Linked DNA regions of Homo sapiens: regions 1 and 3 are each linked to region 2. The links come from fine-mapping of genetic effects on gene expression. A gene starts in region 2. Each other region holds a variant in brackets. All regions are shown on one strand. Distances are between the middles of the regions. Region 1 holds the start of LOC107984964 (a long non-coding RNA gene). Region 2 holds the start of TM2D1 (TM2 domain containing 1). Region 3 overlaps TM2D1 (TM2 domain containing 1).

Region 1 (10,827 bases), 84 kb after region 2:
AAGCTTTAATTCCGTAAAGAATAGCTCATGAAAGGCAGCAGAATGGAGAAGAGGCCATATCAATGAGAACCTGGATTTCTGGTTTTCACTCTTTTCTCAGGACACTGTTTGGTTTGAAGAGGTCTAATTATGCCACTTCTACCAGCAAAACCAGTGGAACAGATCCTTCTGAGTAGTATGTTTTAGTGTAATTCCCTCTTCCATATTTTCTCAAGGAAAAAACATTTGCTTATTGGCATTTGGTCTTAGTATTAGGACAGCTTACAGACTGTGGGCAAAGGCTGTGTGAAAATAGGCATATTGATGCATAAGGTTATTTTTTTATAACTAGGTGAAAGTAAAAGTTGGATTAAAATTATATTAATTCATGTAGTGAATATTCTTGATGCTTTGGGCAAACGTTGCACTCTGTTAAACCTGGCAGACACTTCTTGAGCACCTCCTGAGCCCAGTGCTGCAGATTTAATCATTGACCTTGAGGAAATCAAGGCTAGAGAGGGAGTCTGTATCCTGATTTGTTTTAAAAGTATATTCATTAGAATGTCAAAATCTAAGAGGTGTGGCAAGAACTTACGTTTCTTTAAATTTGTGGGATTTTAGAAAGAATAATTGGAATCTTGAAATTCTGCAGTGCTTGATCTTTAAATTGTAGATCACGAACTTTCCAAAATAGTTTCAAGATTATCCTGCATTGGAAGGAGTCAGGTAGAACAGCAGAGGTGGCCATCAAACAGTGTCTCTCTGGCTCTGCCCTGTCTGCTCTGTGAGTATGTCCACCATCTTTTTCTATCTGACAGTTCTGGAAGAATTCAAGGAGGTTCTCACGTGTAATTCATTTATTGGTCCTTGGGTGCTCAGTGGTGGACACTGTTTTGGTCCTTTCCTTCTCTTGTTCCTTGTAATGAATCTTCTTTCACAACAAAAGCTGGAGTCCTGGATCAGCAAACACAGTCTAGTTGCAGGCCCACTAGAGGCCTGTCACTGCCACTTGGTGCCAGCAGGCACGTATGGCAATGCCTTTGTTGGCACACCCTCCAATTCTAGTGCTGCCACCCACTCTGCCTACAGATACATTTGATGCCTTTCCTCTCCTTCCTCGCCTGTGCCCAAAAGTCTCTGAAACAAAACTGGAGCTCACACCTGAACCTAGTTAGCAATCTGATCAGGAGCCAAGTCAACAAGGAATTTCGGAGTCACAGCCCTTCTATTCCCCACTTCATATCCCCTGCTTGCAACCTCATCATGGCAGGAGAGGCCTGACATGAGAAGTCTGATTTTTTGTTCAGATGTCCCAGATTGTGCCCGTTTTCACTCTTACTTTCCATCTCCTTGGGAGGAATAGACTTAAAATAGACTTAAGGAAGCTATTATGTAGGTGTATTTGTAATAGGACATATGTCTATGCTCCCCACACCCGGCAAAGCCCAGAGAAACACTCCTTTTATCCCTACAGTTAGCTCCAGCCTCCAAGGAGGAGCAGATTTCCCGAGGCTGTTTGTCCTAGACCGTCCCATTCCCAGTAGGGGTCTGAGCTGTTTGGTTTTATTGCCCACCTTATAAATGAGAACAGTCTGGTTTGATCAAGAGGTTAAGAATCCAGACCATGTGCCCAGCACACAAAGCAGTAAGGAGCAAAGGCTTTGTTAGTCAGAGCTTGACTCCAAACTGACTGCCACTTTCTTATCCAGTCTAAGACCCCGTTACCTTATCTATATAATGGGGAAATCCTTATGAAAGTGAGAAACATTAAGTAAGATTATATATATATTGTGTTTAGCTTAGGTCCTAAATCACAGTAATCACTCAGTTATTGTTTGGTACTAATAATAACAAAAATAGCCAAGTGGTTTATTTTAAAATAGCAAAATCTGTAGCAATAGTGTTATAACATGTCTTCTTGTCTCCAGCTCCTTACCCTCCGCAATCCATTTTTTATTCAGCTGCTAGATTCATCTCCCTAGAACATTGTGATCATATTACACCCCATGTGAAAATGTTAGATCGCTTCTTATTACTTACACCTAAAGTCCGAAGTTGTCTTTGCATTCAGGCCTGTTGGTCTGGCCCCAACAAAATATTACCCCCGTTTCTCTACTACTCCTCTTCACACCTCCTCCACTCCAATTAAAATAAACCAACATTCTTCATGTACACCCACACCCTGCACACTGTTTGTTCTTTTTTATCCAGAATCCAGATCTTATCTCTCCTTTGATGCCTGGCTTAAGTGCCACCTCCTCCACTAAGACTTCTCCAGCCCATAATAAACCTCATAGCTCTTGATGGACCCCTTGTCATCACACAGATATCTAGGTAAAATTCGTGCTTAAAATTTATATGTATATCTCTTACATCAGATGATTGGTTTTAGCTATCTAATTCATCCTTGTATTCCTAAACCAGAATTTCTCAACCTCAGAACTATTGACATTTTGGGCCAAATAATTCTTTTGGGGGGTGAGTTACTGTGTGCATTGTAGAACATTCAGCAGCATCCCTGGCCTGTACTCACTAGATGCTAGTAGCACTCCAAAGCCCCAGTGGTGACAACCAAAAATGTCTCCAGACATTATAAAATGTCCTCTGGAGTGCAAAATCACCCCCAGTTGAGAACCACTGCCCTAGATTCCAAACCATGGAGGTTTGAACATGAATGGTTCTCAGTAAATGCTTATGAAAGGAAGGAAAGAGTTTGGCTTAGGCCCTTTTAAGTTTGAGACAGTAGTGGAATATATAATTAATGATATTCTTTCAGCATTTGGGAATAGAAGCACAGAGTTCCTTTGAAAGCTCAGAACTAGAGATTGATATTTGAATGCCACTGGCATAGAATCAGCTAATAGGCATTTCTTGTGTTACATAATGTTTTGAAGTCCCGAGTCAGATAGGAGTTGGGATCCAACCACTAGCCTTACCATTGTAAACTGTCACTGTAGGTGAGTATTTTAACCCTTTTGAGCTTCAGTTCTCTTGTTCTGTAAAATGGGGGTAATAATTATAACTCGCATGGGGTTGCTCTGAGGATAAGTTAGACAATGCATGTAAAGTGGTCATTTGAAAGCCTGGAATGTAGTAAGCACTTAGTAATAGTTCAGCATTATTATTAATATTGTGATTAATAATAATGATTAATTTTTAATCCATTCAGAGGTCATGACAGTGTTAGTTCCATTTTATAGACAGGTTGTGGTTAGAATCTGGATCTGCTAGGCTGGGCACAGTGGCTCACGCCTGTAATCCCAGCACTTTGGGAAGCCGAGGCTAGTGGATCACCTGAGGTTGGGAGTTTGAGACCAGCCTGACCAACATGGAGAAACCCCGTCTCTACTAAAAATACAAAATTAGCCGGGCATGGTGGCAGGTGCCTCTAATCCCAGCTGCTCTGGAGGCTGAATCAGGAGAATCACTTGAATCCGGGAGGTGGAGGCTGTGGTGAGCCGAGATTGCGCCATTATACTCAAGCCTGGGCAACAACAGTGAAATTCCATCTCAAAAAAAAAAAAAAAAAAAAAAAGAATCTGGATCTGCTTAATTGCTATCTTTCCCTGGATCATATTCATCTCACATAATGCACACAGCATCTCACTTCCCAGAAGGATCTTCACCTTTTCATCTGGAAACTGAGTGCTAACTGCCTACGGCAAAAATTCCTTTTCAATTGGTAAATAACATCTTCTTCTATAACTATCATTGGGAAACTCAGTAACTGCTTATTAAGTGCTTTGGGTAAATAGATGGAGGAGATATTGTATATAAGACACCTGTGTTGCCAAAACAAAGCACCTGCCTGTTTGTAGCTTACTAAACCACAGGCTCAAAGATTCTGTCCCTCAGGCTTTAGGAAATGAATTCATAAGTTTAGCAACCATTGGCATTAGCTCCAGGCAGCGTTTGATTTTTGGAGTAGAGCAGCATGAGCAGAGGCTGTGGCCCAGAGCAGAAGCTGGGGCAGAAGCCCAGGGACAGGCCAACAGGTGGGTGGGGGAAGCTAACTTCCTCCTGTGAGAGCTAATCGGCTGAGGGCATCCAGCAGGCCAATGCAAAATGAGTCTCCTGCCCTTAGAAAACAAATACCAGACAGGTCAGGAAAATTTAGCCCCAAACCAGTTCTGTCACCAACAAACTGGTTGACCTGGGAAAAGGCATTTAACCTCTTCAAGCTTCTGTTTATTCGTTGGCAAATGAGGGCATGGGATGAAATCGGTGGTACTCAATCACTGCTCTGGCACATCGGAGGTGGAACACGACTAGCCTACATGGTGCAGGATTTTTGTAGTAATTACTAGCCATCAAAAATGCCTGACAACTCATACATATACCTGAAAAACAGTGTTGGGGTTGGGGGTTGGTTTTCTTTTTATCATATTAGGTTTCTGTTATTTGATAGATTGGATTATTCAGTTCATTCATTCATTCATTCATTCATTCAAATGTTATTGCCTGAGCATGCTATGTGCTGGGCCTGTCCTGGGACCAGGTGCTGCCTTTGCTTTCAAATGGGGTTTACCTGGAACCAGTTAAAATTCCTAGGTCATAGGAGGTGACATGATACCTTTTCTCCTCCAAATAAGAATCGCTGAATCTGATATGACTGTGGGTAATCTGGTCATGGAAATCCCTGCTTCCCAATCCTTACCACTTCTACCGACCCCCATTCCTACTGGCTAGGAAATTCTCTAGGCAATTATCAAAGTTCCCCCAGCCCCCACCGGGTTCCTGCAGACGCCGAGGCGTCTACTAGGTTTGCCTTCTGATTCCTGTAGGTGGAGCCAGATCCCCCGGCTGAGAAGCCCTGGGCCTGCTCTCTGCGGCGGCCGCCGAGCGGTAGGTTTGCTCTCCAGCTCTCTTTTCCTCCTTCTCCCTCTCTCATGTGCGGTCTCCCTCAACATCCAAACCAACCGAGTGCGTCTGAGGTGAAATCGTGCCAGACTTAGAGACGGCTGCCAGGTTTCTCTCAAGTCTTGGCTTAACAAAAGAAAGCAAATTACAAAAATGGAAATTTTCAAACTAGCGTTCAGTGGTATTCAAATCGACGTTTGGGTAGCGCACAGGCACAGACCGCATTCGTGCTATTTTGTGATTAAAATGATACCAAAAATACCTCCTTGCTTTGGTTTTCGTCTTCGAAAACGACTTCTTTCCTTCTTCTAATTTCCCCCTTACTTTTGGGAGCGGCAAACCCCTGACCACTCTAGAATTGCTAACATTTGGACCGGCGTCTGTTGAAATCTTGCCTCTGCTGACTTTTTTTTTTTTTTAAGAGTTGAACTTTAAAAATGTGTGCACTTTGCAGCCTGGGGAAATACAGATAAAGAAGTTTCTAGGCACTT[T/C]CCCAGGAAGTTCTGTGTTTTGTGTGAGGAACTACAAGTTCTATGACAGTGCATAAATCGTCTTTACGTCTCATCTTGATACCGGGAGCAAACCTGAATGCGCGTCTTGCCAGCATGCATGCTACCTCGTTCTCCTTTGAGCATGAATTGTGTGCTCTGTCTCATGCTTTTAAAACATGGGTTTAAGGTGGCCATTGAGTTGGATCTTGAATGATTTTACTTAACATGAGGTTTTATAAAGAGCTTGATTGACCACGTCCTGCTCGATTATTTTTGCGGTTGCTAGACAAGGCCCTGTCCCACGTGGGTTTGTGAGAAAGGTGCTCTCATCATCACCCCACCCCCAAGACTGCACTATTTCTTTCCTTGGAAGCGTTGACTGTCTCCTTCTTACACAGCTGTGTTTGCAGTGCCTGGAGACAGGTGGGGGAGCAGTCTTGGAGGCCGAAGCTGCCAATTCCTTCTCTAAGGACTGTCTGAATAGCTATTAAATTTTAAAGCTCACACGCACGCACACACTTGTTTTGTTTGTTTTTGGTGGTGGTCACTCACTGTGCCTTCCCGTTTGTTGTACAAGGGCAGCTGCACCAGTTTGCCAGAGTGAGATTAAATGTCACAGACAGACATTCTATTGTGTGCATTCGCCAGCCCACCTAAGCATCACCTTGGGCCACTGCCATGTCTTTCTAGGTGCCTCAGAAAGCTGGGTCCTGTAGCATTGGCGGAGTTGTGGGACTGCTTATGAATTTCGGGAAAGAGGTTCTCCCATCTGGATAGGTAAACTTAAAGCTCCCACGAACACTGCAATACTCAGGCAGTAGTCACATCAAGAGGTTCTTGTTGGTTTGGGCCTACACGAATTAGGATTCTCTACCTGGCACAAGTGACTGTGGACAAATCAAGCTGCTAGTATTTTTCAGATTTCAGAATAGAGGGATGACATTTTAATCTGGAATCAGATACCCTGCTCTTTTTACCCTTTAGCCCCAAATACCCAGTGCTCTTCAGGACCCTCGTGCCTTTGCTTGTGCTGTTTCTTCCTCTGGGAATTTCTCCCCCATCCTCTTCTCTGCTTAGTAAACTCTTGTTGGTCTTTCAAGGCTTGTCTCAAATACAGCCTCTTTGAAATCTTTCATAGCCGTGCCCATGCACCGAATTTCCACCCCCTCCCTGTCATCTGTTAAATGTCGCTGTCTTGCTAGATCTATGTAACATACTACGTACTGCATAACTGTGTTACGCACATCTTGGTATGCCTCTTTCTCCCCTAATAGAATATACTCTTTGCCCAGGCAGGGAACACGTCTAATTTACCTCCTACTTCTCAGGCTAAAGATGCTCAGTAAAATCTTTTGAATGAATAAAGAAACATGCTTGGTTTTTTCATCAATTTCCAAGAGACAATGTGTTTACTTTCAGGCTCTCCTAGTTCAATTGCCAGACACCTATAACCATGTCCGTAGAGCTGAGAGTAAGATTTTAAAGTTTATATTAAAGTCTGATGTTCATAGCTCAGAGACATTCTTTTGGCTTACGGTAAAGGAAAGTTTGATGAGCACGTTGGTGGAAAATTTCTGTATTCCCAGCACCTGATTGATGCCTCTGTTCCTACAGAATCCAAAGAGAGCAGAGCACTCCTGCAGACATGGGAGCTTGTGAAAGTTGTGTAGCTCTCCTACTGCTTTGGTGTAGTCTTGCGGATTATACTAACAAGTTGTTATTCATTAGACTTTACTCATTAAGTCATTCAAACTAGAAACCTGAAAATGTCCTTGGAGCCTCCCTCTCCCTCACTTCCCACATCCAGTTATCACCAAATCATGTCAGTTCTTCTCCACAATATCTCCCAGATCTGCCCACTGTTCTCCATCCTTGCTATTGCTGTGTTCCAAGCCATTATCACTTCCCAGCTGGACAATTGCCAAAGCCTTCTAGTTAGTCTTTCTGCTTCTAGTCTTGCCTGCCTCCCATCATGTCATTCCCTGGCTTACCAGCTTTCAGTGACTGCACTTTGCATAATCCTTTGCATGGCCTTGTGTGGTCTGGCCCCCAGTATCTTTTTAGCGGCTCTCTCACTGAATATACTAGACTTCAGGTCCTTGAACTTGCCAAACTCTTGCCTACTTCAAGGCCTATCCATATGCTTACTTGCCTACTTCTTTTGGGAATACTTTCTCTCAGCGTTCACTCTCTTGGATCACTTCTCATCTTTCAGAATTCAACATACATGGCACTGCCTTGGAAATGCAGTCCATGCTTCTCCTTTCTACTTCCTCCTTTCTGGATAAATCACATCCCCATTATCGTTACTCCTGATGCCCTATTTTTCCTTCATATTACTTATTAGTGGTTGCAATTATAAAAAATTATTGATGTTTTTATGTATTTTATGTCTGTCTCTCCATCCACAGTAGATCAAATGAAGGCAGGGATCATGTCTCTTTGTTCAAAAGAGTTTACCAGGAGACCCAGTATCTAACATATAGTAGGTTGTCAAGAAATACTTTTTGGATAGTGCTGGAAGGAGAATGCTAGCAGGTCGTGTGTAACAGGCCTGTGACGTGAAAATAGTTTCATGCAAAAGAAAATGCTGATCTGAAATGAGACTTAAGGATGTTTACGCACATGGAACAAGCAAGGGGAAGACTTGAGTTTTGATATGATATCCCATGGCCTTTCCCCACTGCTATTTGAAAAATAAGAAGAGAACAAGAACAAAAATATTTGTTTTACAACTCTACCAAGATTCAGCCCTCCCCTTTCTCTCCCCCTTGCATCAAGTACATCCTGTACTTTTGGCAACATGTTGACTGGATATTTAAAAGCTGTGAACTGTTCTGAAAATTTCACATAGTGGGTTATGGGCCATGTGTGTTTGATCAAAATTCAATTACTACACTGTACCATACTTGGAAACCTATCATCCCAAGTTATGAAGTATGACGAAATAGGCGAACCTAATTGGTTCAGTATGGGAACAGTATCAACCAAGCTTGTTATGATAAATAGCTTCCTGTGTTAAAGGTTCTCTAGAGCTTATAAGTATCTTGGCTCACCTCCTTCAATGGAATAGGAATACTGCTCCCAGGGACCCCCTAGATCATTGTCCCTTCAATGCAACTGCAGTTCAGCGTTTTCTTCAATTTACTACCCCGAAAAAGAAAAATGCAGTGCAATTTTCCCTAGTCCTTCTCGTTTCTTCATTTAGAATTTGAGCACCTGGTAACTTCTTTAGCTTTTCTTGGCCTTAGAAAAACAATTTTTAAAGTTATGAAGCATTCCAATACAGAAAACCAGAAAATGACAGACATCTCTGTACCCACCACTCAGGATTAACAAATAATAATTTTTTTCCCTATTTCCATCAGATCTTTTTTTCTTTTATGTATCCTTTCTTATTTTTTGAGGCCAAACTCAGGCTACAGTATTTATTTATGAGATTTGTAAGTTAAGTCCTGAGATACTTTAAAACCCTTTAACCAAGAGGATGTGTATCACATTACAGAGAAGTACCTGTACATCGCATGTCTTTTCAGGTGTTGAAATGGACTCAATGAGAATTTCTGGATGATACTGTAGATAGGATTACAAGGAACCCTAGAAGAGGTTTGTTGGGGATGTAGGGTGTGGTGGTGCATGCTTGTTATCCCAGCACTTTGGGAGGCCAAGATGGGAGGATTGCTTGAGCCCAGGAGTTCGAGGCTAGCCTGGGCAACATAGTGAGACCCCATATGTATCTTAAAAATGTAAAAAACAAAAAAGAAATAGTCTTAACAGCTTGAAAAGATAAAGAAGTAAAATAAAACAAAATATTCCCATGCTTTATGGTTATTATGGGAATATGTACATACTTTTTCTTTAGAAGTGACATTTTGGGTTGGGTTAGAAGTATTTCCTTCTAGTGATCGCAGTAAAGGGCAAAACAATTGGGTGACTGCCATTTTAAATTCCAAAAAATAATCAGTAGCACTGGCATTTTCCTCAGAAGACAGCGTTAGGGCTGGGACAATTTGCATATATTTACCCTTAATTCAATCTTACCTTTGCAGTTGCTTTCCCAAGTTTGCTCTCATTTTATTCACCATTTGTAGTAGGCCATCCTGTTAAACCTGTTAACGAAAATGCATAATGCTAAATCTGCATTTCCCCTGTGGAAAAGTTTTGTGTTTTATAAAAAGTCGTTTTGGTAAAAAGCAAGAACCTTAGTTTGTCCTTGACAATAATTCATCAGTCATGAGTGCTGCAATGTATAACCACGAAACAGAGAAATATCCTTGGTGAAGGTAAATATGCAAGCCCACACAAAGGAAAAGTAAATACATTGCATGGTTTAGCAGTTTGAAATCACAATGCTGCCAGGATTACATTAGAGTCGTTCTTCTTGTTTTCTGCAGTACCATTAGGTTTACTTTCAAAATTGCAATTAGCTTAACAGTTGTGATTTCTAAAATGGCCCACTTGCCTTCCTTGTTTTCCTCTATCAGGTGGACACTAGTATCATAATCCTTCCATAATTTTTAAATAGAACTTCCAACAAGAAGTGCTCCCTGAAAGCCGTAAACTTCAAAAAATAGAATGTGACTGTAGGCACTTATGCTAATCTCCCTTTTGGCAAATCAGCTTTTTTTTGTATTGGATCTTGCCTGATTGAATAACACGGGAACTGCCAGAATAAATGCTATTATCTCTGTACAGTAATTAAGGAAATAGTCTTTGTCACTCTAATACGGACCAAGCTCTGCTTGCCTGTAATAAAGTTAAACGATAAAGAATCTGGAATGTAGAGAAAAATAAAGGGAAGTCAGTTACTAGCACGTGTTTCCTCCAGATGAGTAGTAGAGAGATGGAATGATGCATTTTGCAGAGACTGATGAAGAAGTTAAATCACTAAAACATATCAACTTGTAACATTTAATGAAATAATTATTTCAGGAAAAGAAACTCTTCAATTTCTATCTTTGGGAAGAGTTGATGGTTCCTTCCTTGGTGAATCTCAATGTATTATTTTAAAACATAGCTTCTCCAAATACAGGTCAAACCCTACTATACTAAATATCAGTTTTGAGACAGTTCTGTCAGTAATCGCAATAAACATCTCACTATAATAAAAATAGTGTTAATTACATAGTTTTGAATTGATACTGACAGAAGAAAAATTTCCCTTATGGATTTAGTGCACCCAAGTGTGGTGTTCCATCTTTTCCTCTGATGTTCTCAGTCATTCTCCTTCCATCTCTCTGTGTGTATTTATCTATCTTGGCTACTGTATATCTAATTATTTCAGACATGGCCAAGAGGAGCCTACGGGTACTGGCAAGTTTCAGAATAAACCTTACCTCAGAGCCATGGAATATAAGAAAACCAGTTTGTTTTCTTTAGTAGAAATTGAGGTGAAGGAGTGATATTGGGCAAAGAAGGAAACAGCACTATATTAACCATCTTCTTCAAGACTGTTGTGTTCCACATTTTGGAAGATCTGGCTCAGGGGTCAGCAAAC
Region 2 (10,827 bases):
TCCATGTGTTCTCATTGTTCAACTCCCACTTGTGAGTGAGAACATGCAGTGTTTGGTTTTCTGTTCCAGTGTTAGTTTGCTGAGAATGATGGTTTCCAGCTTCACCTATGTCCCTGCAAATGACATGAACTCATCCTTTTTTAAGGCTGCATAGTATTCCATGGTGTATATGTGTCACATTTTCTTCATCTAGTCTATCATTGATGGGCATTTGGGTTGGTTCCAAGTCTTTGCTATTGTGAAAAGTGCCACAATAAACATATGTGTGCATGTGTCTTTACAGTAGAATGATTTATAATGCTTTGGGTATATACCCAGTAACGGGATTGCTGGGTCAAATAGTATTTCTGTTTCTAGATCTTTGAGGAATCGCCACTCTGTCTTCCACAATGGTTGAACTAATTTACACTCCCACCAACAGTGTAAAAGCACTCCTATTTCTCCACATCCTCTCCAGCATCTTTTGTTTCCGGACTTTTTAATGATCGCCATTCTAACTGGCGTGAGATGGTATTTCACTGTGGTTTTGATTTGCATTTCTCTAATGACCGGTGATGATGAGCTTTTTTTCATATGTTTGTTGGCCACATAAATATCTTCTTTTAAGAAATGTCTGTTCATACTCTTGGCCCACTTTTTGATGGAGTTGTTTTTTTTCTTGTAAATTTGTTTAAGTTCTTTATAGATTCCAAACCAGAACATTCTAAAAGCATCAAAATGGTAGTCAAAATGCAAAGTTACTGTCTTTTATTACCAGGTAATATGTGTAACAGATATTCTGATCCTTAGTCTTGGATTTCTTAAACAAAAATTATGGGAGGCCATTGTTTCAAACTGAGCTCCTGCACTAGGCCCCCAAATACCAGATCAAACCAAAATGGATTCACTCATGCTAAAAGCCACATGCTCAACTGAAGGTTTAAGGAAGCAGATAGATCCCCAAACAGACCAATTTTTCCTGAAAGCAGGAGATTCCAGTCTACTTGAGTCTCCATAACAAGGAAGTCCCCTCTGCTTTAACCCTTACAAAAAACCCTACAAACCCCTTCTTTTTCTTTTTTCTCCTCCTCCTCTCCCTCCTCCTCCCCACTTTTTTTTTGGAGACAGGGACTTGTGCTATTGCCCAGCCTGGAGTGCAGTGGCACAATCATGGCTCACTGCAGCCTTGAACTCCTGGGCTCACCTGATTCTCCAGGCTCAGCCTCTTTAGTAGCTAGGACTAGAGGCATGCCCAGGCAATTTTTTGCTTTTTGTAGAGATGGAGTCTATGCTGTCCAGGCTGGTCTTAGAACTCAAACTCCTGGACTCAAGTGATCCTTCCACATTGGGCTCCCGAAGTGTTGGGGAGCCACCATGCCCAGCCTCCAACCGCGAATTTTTCTGTTGCTGTTTCTTTGTTCCCACCTTACAAAACCCAGTGTTTTATTATTGCCCAGCGGGAGTTTTCTTTCTAGTGTATAGAATGAAGGCTGCCCCACTCCTTGAATTGTGACTAAAAGTTAATTAGATATATAACTGAATTTGTTGTAATTTTGCCTTTGACAGATTTTTTTTTTTTTTTTTGAGAAGAGTTTTGCTCTTGTTGCCCAGGCTGGAGTGCAATGGTGTGATCTTGGCTCACCGCAACCTCCACCTACCGGGTTCAACAATTCTCCTGCCGCAGCCTCCTGAGTAGCCGGGGCTACAGGCACGCTCCATCATGCCTGGCTAATTTTTGAATTTTTAGTAGAGACGGGGTTTCTCCATGTTGCTCAGGCTGGTCTCTATCTCCTGGCCTCAGGTGATCCGCCTGCCTCAGCCTCCCAAAGTGCTGGGATTACAGGCGTGAGATACCGTGCCTGGCCAGATTTTACCTAATCCTTGCCTCGTAACCATGTCATAAATTTCATCTCAGAATAGGGCTGAGGGATGGTGTTGAGCTGTATATTGTACATTTGATTAGCTTTTCTGTTTGGTTTTTGTGTTTTTTTTTTTTTGTCTTTGTTGTTGTTTGCTTGTTTTTGAGACGGAGTCTCGCTCCGTCGCCCAGGCTGGAGTGCAGTGGCATGATCTCGGCTCACTGCAACCTCTGCCTCCTGGGTTCAAGCGATTCTCCTGCCTCAGCGTCCCGAGTAGCTGGGACTACAGGCGCCCACCACCATGCCCAGCTAATTTTTGCACTTTTTTTTTTTTTTACTCCAGACGGGGTTTCACCATATTGGCCAGGCTGGTCTCGAACTCCTGACGTTGTGATCCACTCACCTCGGCCTCCCAAAGTGCTAGGATTACAGACATGAGCCACTGCACCCGGCCGGTTTTTGTTTTTTAAATTCAAGGTTTTTTTGTTTTTTTATCTGTTTTTTTGAGACGGAATTTAGCTCGTTACCCAGGCTGGAGTGCAATGGCAGACCTGGGTTCACAGCAACCTCTGCCTCCCGGGTTCAAGCGATTCTCCTGCCTCAGCCTCCAGAGTAGCTGGGACTACAGGCGCCCTCTCCACGCAGGGCTAATTTTTGTTTTAGTAGAGACAGAGTTTCACCACGTTAGCCAGGATGGTCTTGATCTCCTGACCTCAGGTTATCTGCCTGCCTCGGCCTCCCAAAGTGCTGGGATTACAGGCTGAGTGACCACGCCTGGCCTAAGTAAAAGTTTAAAGGTTCGTTTTCTAGGCTATACACTGCAACCTCCGCCTCCCGGGTTCAAGTGATTCTCCTACCTCAGCCTCTGGAGTAGCTGGGACTATAGGCGCGTCCCACCACGCCGGGCTAATTGTTTGTATTTTTAGCAGAGTCAGGGTTTCACCGTGTTAGCCAGGATGGTCTTGATCTCCTGACATCACGATCCGCCCACCTTGGTTTCCCAAAGTGCTGGGAATACAAGTGTGAGCCACTGCGCCCAGCCCTAGGCTATACCTTTTTAAGCAGTCATGTATCCTACAAAAATATAGCGTTTCAACTACTATTTTGGGAGAATCTTTTTTAAATGTTTCTTTTTCTTTTCTTTTTTTTGTTCAAGCCATCTGCCTTCCTTGGCCTTCCAAAGTGCTAGGATTACAGGCTTGAGCCACCACGCCAGGCACAGGAGGAATATCTTAAGCAAACCCATTGTCCTACTACAGTAGCTAGTATGTGCTTCTAATGTAACAATTATCAAACACTTATCAAATAGTATTTAACTGTTTGTATTTTCCCTTACCAAACAGGAAGTGCTTACCTGCAGGGTTTTTGTCTAAATTTTTGAGTCTAGGGTCTAGCTTCATGCTGAGTACATAGTAAATGCTCAATTAAAAACAATTTTTTTTTCCTTTTTGGAGGGAGAGGGAGGACGGAAAAAAAGGAAAGAAAGGAAAAACGAAGGAAGAAAAAAGAGAGAAGGAAGAAGTCCATTTAGAATAGGAAGTTTATAACTGAACTACTAAATTTTTCACTTAAATCATTTAAACCTGATTTAAAGCATAAATATTATGTATAAATGTCTTAAATTAAAAATAGCGGCGGGGCGCGGTGGCTCACGCCTGTATTCCAGCACTTTGGGAAGCCAAGGCGGGCGGATCACGAGGTCAGGAGTTCGAGACTAGCCTGACCAACATGGTGAAATCCTGTCTCTACTAAAAAATACAAAAATTAGCTGCGCGTGGTGGCGTGCGCCTGTAATCCCAGCTACTCAGGAGGCTGAGGCAGGAGAATTGCTTGACCCCGGGAGGCAGAGGTTGCAGTGAGCCAAGATCGTGCCACTGCACTCCAGCCTGGATGACAGAGCGAGACTCCATCTCAAAAAATAGCAGCGGGGCGTGGTGGTTCATGCCTGTAATCCCAGACCTTTGGGAGGCTCAGACGGGTGGATCACCTGAGGTCGGAAGTTGGAGACTAGCCTGATCAACATGGAGAAACCCCGTCTCTACTAAAAATACAAAATTAGCCAGGCGTGGTGACTCATGGCTGTAATTCCAGCTACTCAGGAGGCTGAGGTAGGAGAATAGCTTGAACCTGGGAAGTGGAGTTTGCAGTAAGCGAGAATCGTGCCATTGCACTCCAGCCTGGGCAACAAGAGCAAAACTCCCGTCTCAACTCCATTTCTGTCTCTAAATGAATGAATGAATAAAGCATAGTAATGCTACAAAGTTGTTTTATTATGAAAATTTTAGGGCCAGGCGCCGTGGCTCGCGCCTGTAATCCCAGCACTTTGGGAGGCAGAGGCGGGTGGATCACCTTAAGTCATGAGTTCGAGACCAGCCTGCTCAACATGGTGAAACCTCGTCTCTACTAAAAATACAAAAATTAGCTGGGCTGGTAGTGGGCGCCGTAATCCCAGCCTTTCCGGATGCTGAGACAGGAGAATAGCTTGAACCTGGGAGGCGGAGGTTGCAGTGAGCCGAGATCATGCCATTGCAGTCCAGCCTGGGCAACAACAGTGAAACTCCACCTCAAAAAAAGAAAATTTAAAAACGTAGTTTATGTTTAAATATTACTTCAAATAGTTGTATGTCTTCCAGAATATATATTCCAAAATGAGGCCAGGCACAGTGTGGCCTCACACCTGAAATCCCAGCACTTTAGGAGGCAGAGGCGGGCAGATCACTTAGGCCAGGAGTTCGAGACCAGCCTGGCCAAAATGGTGAAACCCTGTCTTTACTAAAAATACAAAAATTAGCTGAGCGTGGTGGCGCACGCGTGCAGTCCCAGCTACTCAGGAGGTTGAGGCAGGCGAATCACTTGAACCAGAAGGCAGAGGTTGCAGTGAGCTGAGATTCTGCCACTGTACTCCAGCCTGGGTGGCAGAGAGAGATTCCATCTTAAAAAAAAAAATTTACTTCTCGTAAAACATTATACCAGTGTTCTCAAAGTGGGGGTCCCTGGACTAGCAACACCCACATCCCTTGGGATCTCCTAGAAATGGAAATTATCCAGTCCCTCCCTACATCTTTTGTATCAGAAACTCTGAGTGCCGGTTCTATCATTCTGTTTTAATAACTACTACAGGTGATTCAGATGCTATTCAAAGTTTGAGAACCACCAAAGTTAGTGCTAAAGTATGGATGAAGAAGCACCACTCAAGTTCAAATTTTTATATTGTTAGACAAAAAAAAGATTAAACTTAACTTTACGAAAACATTTTTTCCTCACTGTTAAAGTTCCCCACCACAGAACTTTTAGAACATATAGAAATTTAAAAACAACAGATGGAGGAAAAAAAATCTTCAACTTTTCACTTAATCATAAACTATTTGGTTTCCTCTTGTTACAGTTTCCACCCCCCAAATTATCCCCCACCTAAATTGTCACTTTTTTTTTTTAAAAGGCGTAATGTCTCTCACAGTTTTTAAGTTCTGTTCGTGGCAGCCTTCCAAAATCCTTCTCTAAAGTTACAGGAGGACATTATGTCAATTAGTAAGAGCATAGATCTGAAATCTGGCAAACATCAATTTCATTCCGACTGAGTCACTTAGTGATTAAGGTCAGTGTGTTTCAGCGTCTTTGAGCCTTGTTCCTTATCTGTAAACCCAAAACCTATCAGGGCTAACTGCGATGATGTCAGGAAAGCATTGATTCCAACCTCTGACGCCGCTGGCACTTTCAGAGGACCGAGAAGCCTCAGCTAAGGGCGCGGGAATGAGAAGCGGGTGAAGCACCTGATTGCCTAAACCACTCGTTTCCTTCCTCCAGCACTCAAAGATTAACCTTAGCTCCTTCCAAGGGTTCGTGGGGGAAAATTCGCCTCGAGGGACTGGGTACATGCATATTTTAAAAGGGTCTCCCAATGTGATTCCACGGGCTCACGGGCAGAAGAACACGCGAAGAGACGGAACTGGCCTCTATCCTATGCGAGGTCCCTTTAAGAACCTCGCCCTGTTGCCCTTCTCCCTCCCGCTCCTGGGCGGAGGCGGAAGCGGAAGTGGCGAGAAAGTGTCGGTCTCCAAGATGGCGGCCGCCTGGCCGTCTGGTCCGTCTGCTCCGGAGGCCGTGACGGCCAGACTCGTTGGTGTCCTGTGGTTCGTCTCAGTCACTACAGGACCCTGGGGGGCTGTTGCCACCTCCGCCGGGGGCGAGGAGTCGCTTAAGTGCGAGGACCTCAAAGTGGGACAATATCCTCTGTGGAGAACACCCCCCCATGGAGGCGAGGTAGAGTTGGGGTCGCAGGTGGGTCGCTGCCGTCAGGACTGGCTAGGGCTGTACTGAGTGAAAACGATAATCTGATCTGTGGCTTCTAATGACTGAAGGATCCCTGAAGGTGAACAGAGTTGTGGAGATGGGAGGGCCAGAGGCCACCCTTTGTGATTTCCTTATGATTTTACTAGTCATTGGCGCTTCCTCTTCTGATCCACTTTTTTTTTCTTTTTTATCAGTGTGCTTACTTGTTCAGTAAAACATGTAGATCCTGAAGTATGCCAGGCCCCGTTCTAGACACTAGTAATACAAAGATGGATAGTCTCTTACCCTGGAAATGTTTGCCAACTCTTCCTAGGGGGAAGACAAGTAATAACGATCTAGCCAATGTGTTGCCCATTTATCATTAACTTTATGTATATTATGCATATTACCTCATGTCATCTTCAAACTTCATGAGATGGTAGACTGCCAGACAAATTTCTTTCTGTTTTCTTTTTTTGAGACAGGGTCTTACTCTGTCGCCCTGGCTGGAGTACAGTGGCACGATCTCAGCTCACTGCAGCCTCCGCCTCCCGGGTTCAGTCAATTCTCCTGCCTCAGCCTCCTGAGTAGCTGGGACTACAGGCATGCGCCACCACACCCGGGTAATTTTTGTATTTTTAGTAGAGACGGGGTTTACGCCATGTTGGCCAGGCTGGTCTTGAACTCCTGGTCTCAAGCGATCCGCATCCCCCTCACCATGAACCACCGCGTGGGGACTCAGTGGATAAATTTCTGTTGCACTTTGCAACCTTGGGTGACCTATTTGAACTCTGTTTTCTCATGAGTAAAAACGTGGATAATTATGGGGCAAATTTAAAGGTTTATTGTAATGTTTATGTATTATTATATTATTTGTAGAGACAGACTTCTCGTTATGTTGCCCAGGCTGTTCTTCCCAAACTCCTGGGCTCCAGTGATCCTCCTGCCTCAAGTATTACTTAGCAATACTAAAAGTATATTTGTACATATGCTTATTGACTTGGACAAACTAGCAGCCTCTATTTACATGTGAATATCAACATGAGTATATAATATGAATAGTAAAGGCATGATAATGTGTTGTGTTGGAATGTAGTCCGTATTTCCTTAACTTTTTTTTTTACATATATTTGTAAAGATCCAAAAATAAATGACGCTACGCAAGAACCAGTTAACTGTACAAACTACACAGCTCATGGTAAGACTTCAAGAAACATGTCTTTAAAAATAATTTTAAAAACATTATTTCATAGGTCAATGTATGATCACTAAAGGCAATTAATAAATGCATTTTTTCTAAATGATAACATTATTATTCAGTTTCCAGAGTAACTTAAAACTGGAGAACTACCTAGAGGTTGTCAGTATTTAATTTAAAAAAGAATCTTACTTGTTCTGAAATGGTGAAATTTCACCATATAAACAATAATAGGGCTGGACGTGGATGTTCCCAGATTCAGTTAGGCAAGTGTACTTATATTTTATATACTTTATTTTCCCCAAATTAATAAGCATATCATTCCCTCACATGGAAAGTCTTCCTTTTATTTTCCTTTAGCTCTCCACTTATATCATCTATGAATACTTACCTGATAGTTCTTGGCTAGTGCCATAATACCTACAAGTCCTTTCTGCTTCCCAGCAACTTCATCACTATCGTTTATGTCACTTTGATAAATGTCATTTCTATTACTTTGATTATATTACTTTGGTTTATATTTGATTATATTTATTTGATTTGGGGTATGTGTTTATGTGTGTGTATTTAACATTCAGTTGGCACCAAAATGATTTTTTACATGTTTATGAATTTATTTATCAATAATTCTTAAGTGGATTCAACATTTTATTCCAGAGGACACCTAACTGGAGGGCAGGAGGGCAGACTTCTTTTGGGATAGAAATTCTTTTTAGTTGTGTCATTTCCTTTGAAATCTCCATATATACAAAACAACCCTCTAGGCGAGAAAAATACTTTTTTTATTTTTATTTTTGAGACAGCTGGCTGCCAGCTTCCCAGTATGAAGTGAGATGCTTGAGTTACACTAGTATTCACAGATTTCTAGCATCTTTCATATGAATGATTGAAACAACTATTTGAGAACTAACTCTTCTTTATGTGTAACTCTATTCTGTATTCTGAAAACTATGATATAAACAACTTCAAAGTGTAAAACAGGCAAATCAAAGGATATTTATAAGTTAACTACAAAGGAAAGGATTACTTACAAAGTTCCTTTAAATGGCCAGGCATGGTGGCTCACACCTGTAATCCGAGCACTTTGGGAGGCCAAGGCGGGTGGATCACGAGGTCAGGAGTTCAACACCAGCCTGGCCAACATGGTGAAACCCCGTCTCTACTAAAAGTAGAAAAATTAGCCAGGTGCAGTGATGGGCACCTGTAATCCCAGCTACTCGGGAGGCTGAGGCAGGATAATTGCTTGAACCTGGGAGGCAGAGGTTACAGTGAGCCGAGATCGCGCCATTGCACTCTGGCCTGGGTGACAGAGCAAGACTCTGTCTCTGGGGCGGAAAAAGTTTCTTTAAGCGTAATATATCTAAATAAAATAAATGTATACATACTAAGCAATATCTCCTCTATAAGGCATATATTATTACTTTTCTTTCTGGGTGTCTCATTATGTCACCCAGGCTGGAGTGCAGTGGTGCCATCTCAGTTCACTGCAACCTCCACCTCCCAGGATCAAGTGATCCTCCCACCTCGGCCTCTGGAGTAGCTGGGACTACAGGTGTGCGTCACCACGCCCAGCTAATTTATTTTATTTTATTTTTGTATTTTTGGTAGAGACAAGGTTTCGTCATGTTGCCCAGGCTGGTCTCAAACTCTTGGGTTCAAGCAATCTGCCTGCCTGGGCCTCCCAAAAAAAGTGCTGGGTTTACAGGCATGAACCACCAGGACTGGCTCCCTGACTTTTTTTTTTTTTTTTTTTTTTTTTTTAGCTGTAGAGATGAGGGTCTCCCTATATTGTCCAGCCTCGTCTTGAACTCATAGGCTCAAGCAGTTCTCTTGCTTTGGTCTCCTAAAGTGGTGGGATGACAGGCATGAGCCACTGTGCCTGGCTAATTGCCTTTTTTAAAACACACAAAAGCTCATGGACTAACTATGGTGAATCAATTCTAACTCCTGATCAGAGACAGATATCAAAATAGCTCATGAAACATGCTTTTTGGTTCTAACATAGGAGAAAAATATTAAGAGTTGTGAAAAGTGTGAGTTAAGTGATCTCTCTCATTCTTCCAGCCAAAATTATTTTTCCTTTGTTTTTTTCACTGAGTATATGAAGAACTATTGTGAAATTCTCAAACTATGTTTACTTTTCTTTTTCTTTTTTCTTTTTTTTTTTTTTTGAGACAGAGTCTCACTCTGTCGCTCAGGCTGGAGTGCAGTGGCGCAATCTCAGCTCATTGCAACCTCTGCCTCCCGGATTCAAGTGATTCTCCTGCCTCAGCCTCCCAAGTAGCTGGGATTATAGGCGTGCACCACCATGCCCAGCTAATCTTTGTATTTTTAGTAGAGGCAGGGTTTCGCCGTATTGGCCAGGTTGGTCTTGAAGTCCTGACCTCAGGTGATCCACCTGCCTCGTCCTCCCAAAGTGCTGGGATTATAGGTGTGAGCCACTGAGCCCAGCCTAATTTTCTTCTTTCTTTTTCTTTTTTTTAAGACAGGATCTCACTCTGTCACCCAGGCTAGACTGCAGTGGCACCGTCTTAGCTCACTGCAACCTCCACCTCCCAGGCTCAGGAGATCCTCCCACCTCAGCCTCTTGAGTAGCTGGGACTACAGGTACATGCCACTACACCTGGCTAATTTTTTGTATTTTTTTGGAGGGGTGAGTAGCGATGGGATGTACCATGTTGCCTAGGCTGGTCTGGAACTCCTGGGCTCAAGCGATCCACCTGCTTGGCTTTCCAAAGTGCTGGGATTACAGACATGAGCCACCACACCTGGCTGTTCAATTTTCATAAACTAATGTTTGGGTAGGGATGAACGTGAGCAGTGTTTTACAGAGGGGAGTTTGGGGCTAGTGAGTAGGAATTGGGACAAAAGGCAAAGGAAATTCATCTATGACAATAAATTGATGTGATCTTAAAATGGTTCTTGGTTAGCTCAGTATCATTCAATAAGTGCATTTGTTTATTGAGAAAGTATTTATTGGTAATGAATAATTTAAAACTAAATTTACTTTATTAAGACAATTTATATTACAAAATATTGTTATTGATTGAGAATTTGTTCATTTATTTATATTTATTTATTAAGAAATTATTACGTGGCAGGCATCTGCTTGGTGGTATAGGTGATATACAAAAGAAGACATAATCCCTGCCCTCAAGAAGTGTTCTGTCAGCCCGGGTGAGGTGGCTCACACCTATAATCCCATCACTTTGGGAGGCTGAGGTGTGCGGATCATGTGAGGTCAGGAGTTTGAGACCAGTCTGGCAAACATGGCGAAACCCTGTCTCTACTAAAAATAGAAAAATTAGCCAGGCGTAGTGGCACATGCCTGTAGTCCCAGCAACTTGGGAGGCTGAGGCAGGAGACTTGCTTGAACCTGGGAGGCGGAGGTTGCAGTGAGCCGAGGTCACGCCACTGCACTCCAGCCTGGGCGACAGAGCCAGACTCTGTCTAAAAAAAGAAAAAAAAAAAGAAGTGTCCTGTCTGGGTTACATACACATATATCAGCAAGTATTTTCAATT
Region 3 (10,827 bases), 46 kb after region 2:
AATGTCCTTCAATTTCAAAAACAAAGTCCATACTCTCCACATATTTTTAAATTGACATTTAAGTTTTCTATCATAAGTTTAAATAGTTGCAAAGGATATAACTTCTAGTTTGCAAATATTTACATATTTAAATAAAAGTGTTACATCAATTTTGAAATGTATCCAACAGAATATAAATATCGTAGGATTTTAAATATCACCTACTTAAAAAAGATGTGCATGAACTCTTCACTAACCATTATAATTTTTACATTGCTTCTTCCTTGAATTTTTATTTTTATTCCTCTTCTACAGAATTTTATCCTAATATAATATATTTTTAGGTTTAAAAACTTCCTACTAGGCTGGGCACATTGGCTCACGCCTGTAATTCCAGCTCTTTGGGAGGCCGAAGCAGGCAGATCAATTGATGTTCTTAACCATCATCCTAGTACTAGGAGTTTGAGACCAGCCTGTTCAACATAGTGAAATCCTGTCTCTACAAAAAAATACAAAAACAAAATTAGCTGGGCGTGATGGCGCCCACCTGTGGTCCCAGCTACTTGGGAGGCTGAGGTGGGAGGATCGCTAGAGCCCCGGGGGGGAGGTTGCAGTGAGCCAAGATCATGCCATTGCACTCCAGCCTGGATGACAGAGTGAGACCCTATATCAAAAAACAAACAAACAAACAAATGAAAGAGAGAAAACTTCTAGCGAATCATCTTATTCATTAAAATTAAAATATTTAAAAATTTTCTGTGATTTTTTGTTTGGATCAACTTGTTATAATAATGATACACAGTTGATCAAAACAGCATAAACATGTTGCAAATTATTTTTAAACAAAAAGATGTAAAATGTTATTGGAAATGCATCTTTGGAACAGATACGGTAGAATGTATTTTTGGACCTTTGAGTAAAGGATAGTTCCCTAAATCCAATATTTTGAGCTATCCCTTTGTTTGGCACTTCAGAGGCTTTCACACCTCAGGGAAATATGCCATCATAAGACTCGGGGTATCCTGGATGGTAGGTATGCTTTACTGTTAACAAGTGGGAGAAATGACCACAGTGAGGAGAAGTGGGAAGGGAAACTGGTAGGATGCTTCCAGTGTAGCATGGTATCAGGCAAATTTGTTTTACAAAGAGTATTTAGGGAATTAAGCTCTCAGGATTGATTTCTCCTCTGGGCCCACATACACCTTGGTAAATCTTTGTCCACCTTTAATGCTACAGTTTGAAGATTGCTACCTTAGAGGGTAATTTATAGAGATTATGTTAACTAGATTGTCACATATGTGATTAAGTGGACAAGATGATTGTAGCGAACATGTGTTGTTTTTTTCTACCTCTTCCTTTTCCATTCCAGGTGGTTCTGGCAGGACTGTCAATGATACAACCTCATCTCCTACAGGCAGCCTGGCCTGGCCAATCATATTAAATCTATTCCCATGGATATAGTAGTTTGTCCACAGTACGCATAAAAACCAAGCAGATCGATAAAAGTCTTTCCCTGGAATTGGTATATAAACATTGGGGAAGAAAAGTTTACTTTCTTTGTATTAGGAGCTGCTGAGCTGGGAATATGTGACTCTAGAGCTGTTGGCAATTAGTTAGAGTGCCACTCTGCAGAATGAAGACAAGCAGAGCTAAGCAAGGAGGCAGGGAAGCCAAGGGCCTCAGGGAGCACAGAATTCAGTCCTTGGTTCCTGTAGCTTTTCTTTTGATCCTTTGAGCTATCCCAGTATATCCCAGTAGTTGTTTTTAGCTACATGAGCCACTAAATTACCTATTTTTGCTTAGGTTAGAGCTGGATTTTTGTTGCTTCTGAAATACTTTTATTAACAACTGAGAAAAGTAAACAAAGTGCTGTGAAATATCTTTTGTAAAATGAATAATTTTGAAATTTTGTCTCTTCTAGATTGTTGGACCTTCAGATGGAAGTAGTTACATTATAGATTACTATGGAACCAGACTTACAAGACTGAGTATTACTAATGAAACATTTAGAAAAACGCAATTATATCCATAAATATTTTTTAAAAGAAACAGTAAGTGATATATATATATATGTAATATCTTATAGTGGTATATTATTCATATAAAATTATGAGAATTTTAGGACCATAGAAAATTTTAAGAAACCGTATAAACCTCTCAGGTACCCCTATGCCTGAAACATCTCCAATCCTTTGAAAAGCATTTTAGTCCACGCTCATGGCTCCTTCGGTTCCCACTTCAGACTCTTTGCAGTGCATATGGTTAAAGGACAAAGTTCACAAGAAAAAAGTAACATCAAAGCAAAAAGGCATTTATTATTTGATGGTTATGATGAAAGTATGTGCCGTAAATAGCTCAATATAGCAGATATTTCTGCTGCCCATCCCTCTAAGGGTCAGTATAATCTTTAACTTCCTTCTTTGCTTCTCCTTCCCTGAAACTGAAAATAGATACTGAAAGAGTCCAAAGCCTGAATTCCCTGTAAGTGCTTCTTCTAACCTAAAGTTTGGCTCTGGCTGTAAGAATTATTGGCCTCAGCTTTATCTTTTTCTTTTTCTTTTTTTTTTTTTTTTTTGAGACAGAGTCTTGCTCTGTTGCCCAGGCTGGAGTGCAGTGGCTCAATCTTGGCTCACTGCAACGTCTGCCTCCCAGGTTCAAGCGATTCTCGTGCCTCAGCCTCCCCAGTAGCTGGGACTACAGGCACACACCACCATGCCCGGGTAACTTGTATTTTTAGTAGAGATGGGGTTTCGCCATTTTAGTCAGGCTAGTCTTGAACTCTTCAGGTGATCCACCTGCTTCGGCCTCCCAGAGTGCTGGAATTACAGGCGTGAGCCACTGTGCCTGGCTGGCCTCAGCTTTAAATAAGTGATAAACCTGCTGAAGTCAGAGATACCATCCTTTTTCCTGGTTCAACTCTCTGGTTTTCTAGGACTCTGCTACTACAAGGTTTTTTAAATTTCAATTACCATACATTAGTCTATTCTAATAATCTTCCAATAATGCAAACTTTTACTCAGGATTTTGGTAGAATATCAGGAAAACCATTTCCTGGTATAATGATTCTCTGTAATAGAGAAATCCTATATATCATGTAGGGTGAAGGGTAGTTTTTATGTAATAGTTCACTTTGAGCTGTCTAGCAGCTGTCTAGAAGCTTTCATAGACACAGACAGGTAGAGAGAAAGACAGGGTAGATGTCTTAACCATTATCCTTGTTCTAGGGTTTTCAGTCAACTCTATCTCAAAGGACTGCTTCTAGAGGCCAGCAAGAGAATAGACATTTGTTTTCTGTCTTGTAGAACAGAAACAGGATATGAAGTATACTTTTGCCCTTTAGGTGGATTTTTTTCTTTTCTAACAGTAAAATTATGGATATGCCTTGTAGTTATTGTCATGGGATTGAACAGTGACACACCCTCAAGATGTAAGGAATTTATTCAACTGATTGTCCAAAAGGTTTTCCAAATCTTATAAACTGTAAGTCATTGAGCCTTAAAATTAGAATAAAGCTTAGAGATCCATCTACCTCTTCTTACCAGGAAAAAAATCAAGACCTAAGGAAGTTGAGAGTAAGATACGCAACTAATTAGTGCAAAACTGAAACTAGAATCTAGGTCTTCCATACATTCTGTCACATGGTTGTTCTCTTCCTCCCATCCTACCCCAGCTCCAGTCAACTGTATCATTTTGTATTAGGCATTTTTGTTTTGGAAATTGTTTCTCCTATTTTATGAGAAGGATTGTGTAGTTTCATGTAACTTTTATTATTCATACTGTAAATTGTGTCTCTTTCAAAAGTAGATTGTTTCTAAACCATAGTGTGTAAAAATTAAGCAAATGTAATTTTAAGAGGAATCTCATTCTTGGTAGCCTATTATGTAAACATTTAGGTGGGATTCCAGATTCAGATTTGAAACTTAAAACCTGAAAGGCCCATTGAGAAGGCCAGTATCTGCATTATCATTCATGTAATCTCTCTACATTATACAGAAGTGCTCCAAGAATGAGAAAAAAATACATTGAGCAAATGAAATGTTAAAATGTACATCTGCAATAACCTCATTGGACTCTTAAAAAATATTGTGTTTTAACGTATTTCTTCTTTCTGTTTTAGGATTTGAGCCTCCTTGATTTTAATAGAGAACTTCTAGTGTATGGATTTAAAGATTTCTCTTTTTCATTCATATACCATTTTATGAGTTCTGTATAATTTTTTGTGGTTTTTGTTTTGTTGAGTTAAAGTATATTATTGTGAGATTTATTTAATAGGACTTCCTTTGAAAGCTGTATAATAGTGTTTCTCGGGCTTCTGTCTCTATGAGAGATAGCTTATTACTCTGATACTCTTTAATCTTTTACAAAGGCAAGTTGCCACTTGTCATTTTTGTTTCTGAAAAATAAAAGTATAACTTATTCACATTTTTAGTGCTTTGTTATTGAGAAAATCTTCTTAAATGTTGAATGTAGCTGTCTTACCCATTTTGATCCTTCAAAGCAGTTAATCCATGGTGTGAACAAATACCATTTATATTGCCTGGGGCTTCAGTCTTGTGTATGACAACCCACCTGTTTTTCTGCAGCTTTCAGATCTGTCTTTGCCTTGGTATCCAGGGAGCTAAAGATCATTAGGGAGTCTGTGAAACTTTGAGGCAACATGTACACTTCTGGCATTGATTCAGGCCTCTGAGGTGTGAACTTCTTCCTTTTTTGCTTTGGGAGTGCTACACTAGCTTTTGGAAGACCAGATGCTGACTCATCTAGCTCACCGCAGTTATATTTGAAGCTGGATGGACAAGGTGGGAGCACCAAACAGATGATTAATGTCTTCCATCTGTGAGCACCACCAGGCAGATGCCGGCACAGGTGCCTTAAGTGATGTACCAGTGTCTGAAAAAAGCAGCACCTGTATGTTAGCACTGATTTTTCTTACCATGTTTAGAGGGGTTTTAAGAAGATGGAAATACATGAAATGTTATGTCCCCAGAATACTATCCCACTTTTTCTTCAGTAACAGGCATACCAATTTCAAAATTACTAGTGTCGGTACTCCTCAAGAGTAAAAACCATAATTTTTTGTCACACATTTTCCTCAAAAGTGGACAGTATAGTATAATTAGCTTCATAACATGTAAATCATTCAATAGCTTCTCAAGTTGGTGGGAGATTATTAAATATTAATATATGAAATGAATTTGGGTTGACCCCCAGTGTACACCAGGAACATCTCTTTGATTTGTTCAAAGAGACGTTTGAACAAGTTTGATTGTCTACTGAGTGGGAGGCCTGATCTATATGGGGGGATGCAGGAGTGAACAAAATCCCTGCCCTTTAGAAGCTTATATTCTCTTGGAACTTACTTTTTCACCGTGATATTTTTGGTCACAGTTAAACTAGTTGGTAGATACTCATTTTCTAGTGTCCCTGAGGTTCCTTTAGGTTGCAGACAGTGCTTTGTAGTTTACTTCGGTATCATCTAAGCCCAGATTGTAAGTCATGTTTCCACAGTCAGGTTAGTTCAACTATATAAGAAATACCTACTTGGGAGGCTGAAGCAGAAGAATCACTTGAACCCTGGAGGCGGAGGTTGCAGTGAGCCGAGATTGTGCCACTGCACTCGAGCCTGGGTGACAGAGCGAGACTCTGTCTCAAAAAAAAAAAAAAAAGAACCTGCAGTCAAATTTTGGAAAGTAATCTTGATCCTTGCATAATAGCTATAGTCATTAACTTGGCCAGGTAGTAAGTCTGTTTCAAAGCAGGTGATGCTAAAAAGTATTTGTTCAAATAAGCTATACTCTTAAAGGGTTGTTGATGAAGCATAGAAACAAAGTCCCTTCACAACACATTATTAAGCCTTTAGACTTTATTTTCACTTTAGTTTCCTGAATTTGCATGACAAGAACACTTCTAGTTTGCCTAATTCTGTTGCCTAATACGTAATTCTTTAACAGATTTTTTAATAAACTC[ATG/G]TGAATGCATTTAAATTCTATTTGTCAGCTTTTTTTCTTTCACTGAGCACTATTATGACAATTTGTTAGTAGTGTGTATGAATATGAATTATATGTTAAACCCTCTCTATCAGATGTTTTATATGTCAAACCTGCTTTTATATGAGTGACCAAAATTGTGAGATGCATTAGCTCAGTCATTCCTTATTACTGCTAAATCCTTTTAAGGCAGAATGGAAAGGATTCTTTCAATCCTATAGAGATGTTTAGTGCCTTGTAGCAGTGATGTACAAATGATACTACTTTTGCCTAAAGGATTGGTATAATTTCCAGAAGTACCTATTTACCCAGAAATATTCCTTACTTCAAAGATTCTGTTATGTCTGTGGCCAGCATTTGTTCATGGAACTGCCAAGAGTATAAAAGAAATATTGGTTGGGGGTTATTTTATTTTTTTTTTAGATGGAATTTCACTCTTGTTGCCCAGGCTGGAGTGCAATGGCACAATCTTGGCTCACTGCAACCTCCACTTTCCGGGTTCAAACGATTCTCCTGCCTCAGCCTCCTGAGTAGCTGGGATTATAGGCACGTGCCACCACGCCCCACTAGTTTTTGTATCTTTAGTAGAGACGGGATTTCACCATGTTGGCCAGGCTGGTCTTGAAATCCTGGCCTGAAGCAATCCTCCTGCCGTGGCCTCCCAAAGTATTGGGATTACAGGCATGAGCCACCGCACCCCACCTGATAGATACATTTAAAAGGAAAAGGTAGGATGCCATATTAGAGGTCTGGCATCCAAGCAGCATGGGATGATAAAAGTATAGACTTATTCTGAGTCCTGAGTGCATTCTGTTTCTCATCCCTTAATTTGTGACTGAGCACGTAACCATTCTTAATCCCTCTGTCTTCATATAAATAGAGGTAGTGACACGTGTCAGGTAATGTTGAAAGATTAAGTGGCAGATACTAATTATGTATTGAACACATTTTAAAATAATGGGATAATGGCATCAAGTACTGGTGAGGTCTGTCTGGAACTTGCAAGAGGTTCTGCACAACTGGGCTATAGCATGGTTATTTCTTAAATAAAATGCCAGTGGGCTCAAAAGTCTCTTTTACAAAAGGAGGGTAAGACACTTCGTTTGGACATTGTTTACCTGTTTTTCTTATTATCTTTATCCGTATCTGTAGTTACTGGATGTAATATGGGCCAAAAGTGTCTTTTTTTTTATGAAGAATTAGTCTTATTGGCACCTTCACTCTTTTAAGACTCTATGTAAGAAAAAGCCGAAATGTTACAGATTTTGTTTTTGTTGCTTTTTCATCTAAAGTTCGCTGGAGATAGTTAATAAGTTTTAAAATGTTGCTGTGAGGCAGCTGATCAGCCTACTTTCAGCCTAAATTATGGTTAATTGCAAGCAATCACTATGCATACAACAGTGTTGCTTTTAACCTGTCAATGTTATCAGAATATGCCAAGCATGTGGAGATTAAAACTTGAAAAATGATTAAGGATAGAGCTATTTGGGCTGCATATGCCAAAGAAAAACGTTTTACCAGAATACTCTAGCAAGTGTGGTGTTTGGAACTTTTTATCATGTGAGCTAATTTTGTGTTTAAGAAGGTATGATTATGAAGGCTCAAGATCCTATCTTTGATTTTTAGAAAAACCTCAAGATTCGACTAATTCTGAATAGATTATGAAATTCACCTATTATTGCAATATGAGAAACATTAAGGAGAATGGCATGACTTCTCTGTGTGATTTGTCACTGAGGCAAACTATTGGAATGAAATGGTTCAAGACATAACAAAAGTTGTTTTTAATAAGTGTTTTGAAGGCTGGGCCCGGTGGCTCACGGCTGTAATCCCAGCATTTTGGGAGGCTGAGGCGGGCGGATCATGAGGTCAGGAGATCGAGACCATCCTGGCTAACACGGTGAAACCCCGTCTCTATTAAAAATACCAAAAATTAGCTGGGCATGGTGGTGGGTGCCTGTAGTCCCAGCTACTCGGGAGGCTGAGGCAGGAGAATGGCATGAACCCAGGAGGTGGAGCTTGCAGTGAGCCGAGACGGCGCCACTGCACTGCAGCCTGGGCGACCGAGTGAGACTCCGTCTCACACACACACACAAAAAAAGTGTTTTGAACCTTTTAAAAGGTATTCAAAAGAAGCAAATTTATTGTTTATTAATTCTCAACTATTTATTGACCTACTATGCACCTCTTCTGCTCTTGTCCTCCTACACTATATTCTCCACACAGCAGCCAAAGAGATAAAAATAAATGAGAAAATGCTACTGTTCTGCCTATTCTCCAGTGGCTTCTGTCATGCTTCAAATATGCCATATTGATTCCTTTTTGTTTTTTTTTTCATAGAGACAGTGCTTCACTATGTTGGCCAGGTTGGTCTTGCACTCTTGGCCTCAAGCATTCCTCCTGCCTCCGCCTCCCAAAGTGCTGGAATTACAGGCATGAGCCACTGCACCCAGACCAATTTCTACCTGAAGTGTTTTTTTTTTTTTTTTTTTTTGAGACAGAGCCTTGCTCTGTTGCCCAGGCTGGAGTGCAGTGGCATGGTCTCGGCTCACTGCAACCTCCACCTCCTGGGTTCAAGTAATTCTCCTATCTCAGCCTCCCAAGTAGCTGGGATTACAGGCACATGCCACCATGCCTGACTAATTTTTGTATTTTTAGTAGAGATTGGGGTTTCACCATATTGGCCAAGCTGGTCTAGAACTCCTGACCTCAAGTGATCCACTTGCCTTGGCCTCCCAAAGTGCTGGGATTACAGGTGTGAGCCACACGCCCAGTCTACCTCAAGATTTTTTACTTAATCTTTCCTTTGCCTGGAGTTCTCTTTCCCACGTTGTTACATGACTTGCTTCCTCAGTCAGGGCTCTGCTCAAATATTTTATAAACATTAAAATTCTCTCTTTGAATGGGTGGTTTCTAGAGGTGGTTCCTGAGAGAAGATCAGGGAGTAGATTATTAGAAATAATTAAAGGAAGCTACTAAATTGCCTATTATTTGCTATGTACTCTCCTGACCTGATTATCTCACTTAATCCCTATAATCACCCCGTGAGACAGGACGATTAGTTTCCCTTCCAGTGATAAAGGTCTTTTATGCTATAGATATCATTGGCTAGCCTTTAATACGTTAACGGAAGCTTTAGTTAAATATTGTGCCCCTCTGCGGAACCCAGGCTAGTTTCTGATTCAATTTTTTAATATCCACCCACCTATTCATCCAAGTATGCCATAAAGGGTAATGCTTAAATTCATGGACTTTAGGATCAGACACACCTGTCACTTCTTATGACCAAACTCTTAGGCCCTTGGTTTCTTCATTCTTAAAATGGACATGTTAGTATCTTTCTCATGCATTTGTCATAGGGTTAAGTAATATATTCCACGGTGTGTGGCACATGGTAGGTATTTAATAACTGATTGTTTTTAAGATTTTTGTATTTTTTATCTCATGTACTTCCAATGCTCCTACAAGGTCAGTACAGCCATTTATATATCCATATTATATACATAATTAAAGAAGGTTAGAGAGATCAAATATCTTGACTAAGATTACACAGCCAGCAAATGATGCTTAAAACCAGGTTTGTGACTCCTAAGCCCGTCCTCCTAATCACTATACAATATCACTTCCCTTTTATGCCCTCAACTGGCCATATATCTGTCTCATGTTTTAATAATTTCCCCACTGGAGTTTTTCATCAAAAAGGAAAGACAATCTTACAAAAGCCTAATGGCTTCATTTCAAAAAGAATATTCTGGGTGCAGTGGCTTATGCCTGTAATCCCAGCACTTTGGGAGGCTGAGGCGGGTGGATCACCTGACGTCAGGAATTTTAGACCAGCCTGACTAACATGGTGAAACCCCGTCCCTGCTAAAAATGTAGCCAGCCGTGGTGGTGCATGCCTGTAATCCCAGATACTTGGGAGGCTGAGGCAGGATAATCACTTGAACCCAGGAGGCGGAGGTTGCAGTGAGTCGAGATTGCACCATTGCATTCCAGCCTGGGCAACAAGAGCAAAACTCCATCTCAAAACAAATAAAAAAAATATTATATTGAGGCATGTATAAAATGCCCAAATCTTAGTATAAAGCTTGATAAGTTTCTGCCTATGTATGCACCCATTTAACCACCATCCAGTTCAAGATAAAGAACATGTCTAGCACTCCAGAAAATTCTATAGTGTTCCTTCCTAGTCAGCATCCACCCCTCATGGATATCACTCTTCTGTGAGTCTATCACCATAGATTAGTTTTGCCTGTTTTTGAACTTCATGTGTTTGGCTTCTTTCACTCATTATTACAGTATAGTATTCCACTGTATGAAGGTGTCAAAAATATTTATCCAGTCTACTGTTGCCAGAGCTGTCAGATAATAAATATGTGTTGTTTTAAGCCACTAAGTTTATGGTAATTTGTTATAACAGCAATAGGAAACTAATATAGTTGTTATGTTCAAAGTGAGTTTCTTATAGGCGGTTATATTGTTGGATCATTTTTCCCCTATTCTGCTAATCTCTGTCTTTTAATTAGTGTATTTAGGCCACTTGCATTTAAATTAATTATTGATATATTGAGGCTTAAGTTTGCCATGTTATTACTTCTTTACTGTTTCCTCCCTCTGTTTTTCATTCTTCTGTTTTTCCTTTTTGCCTTCTGGGCATTACTTGAACTTTGAAAAAATTAATTTTCCTCTATGATGCTTTCGAGCATATTGCCCCACATAATTTTTTTTAGTGATCTCTCTAGACATTGCAATATAAATACATAACTTATCACCGTCTACTGGTGTCAACACTTTGCCTCTTTAAGTGTTGAAAGCTTACTTCCATTTAGGTCCCTTTGTGCTTCCCACTTCTAAAATACAA

Evidence for each region.
Region 1: its variant is fine-mapped to the expression of TM2D1 in whole blood (TOPMed, PIP 0.95).
Region 3: its variant is fine-mapped to the expression of TM2D1 in whole blood (TOPMed, PIP 0.98).

What each region holds. Positions count from the first base shown.
Region 1 is chr1:61,635,853-61,646,679 of GRCh38, reverse strand. LOC107984964 (a long non-coding RNA gene) reads right to left here and starts at 9,572. Exons shown (of 3, transcript XR_001738095.3): 1 at 9,532-9,572; 2 at 9,372-9,439. RefSeq lists enhancers at 4,667-4,716, 4,927-4,976. The variant T/C (reference allele first, on the strand shown) is at 5,331.
Region 2 is chr1:61,720,191-61,731,017 of GRCh38, reverse strand. TM2D1 (TM2 domain containing 1) reads left to right here and starts at 5,877. Exons shown (of 7, transcript NM_032027.3): 1 at 5,877-6,061; 2 at 7,232-7,305. The coding sequence starts at 5,898. RefSeq lists enhancers at 5,202-5,887, 5,536-6,195, 5,232-6,431, 5,888-6,575.
Region 3 is chr1:61,674,620-61,685,446 of GRCh38, reverse strand. TM2D1 (TM2 domain containing 1) reads left to right here. Exons shown (of 7, transcript NM_032027.3): 6 at 1,901-2,030; 7 at 4,097-4,401. The coding sequence ends at 2,011. Among named protein-coding and RNA genes, the nearest start is that of TM2D1, 45 kb to the left of the region's middle. The variant ATG/G (reference allele first, on the strand shown) is at 5,947.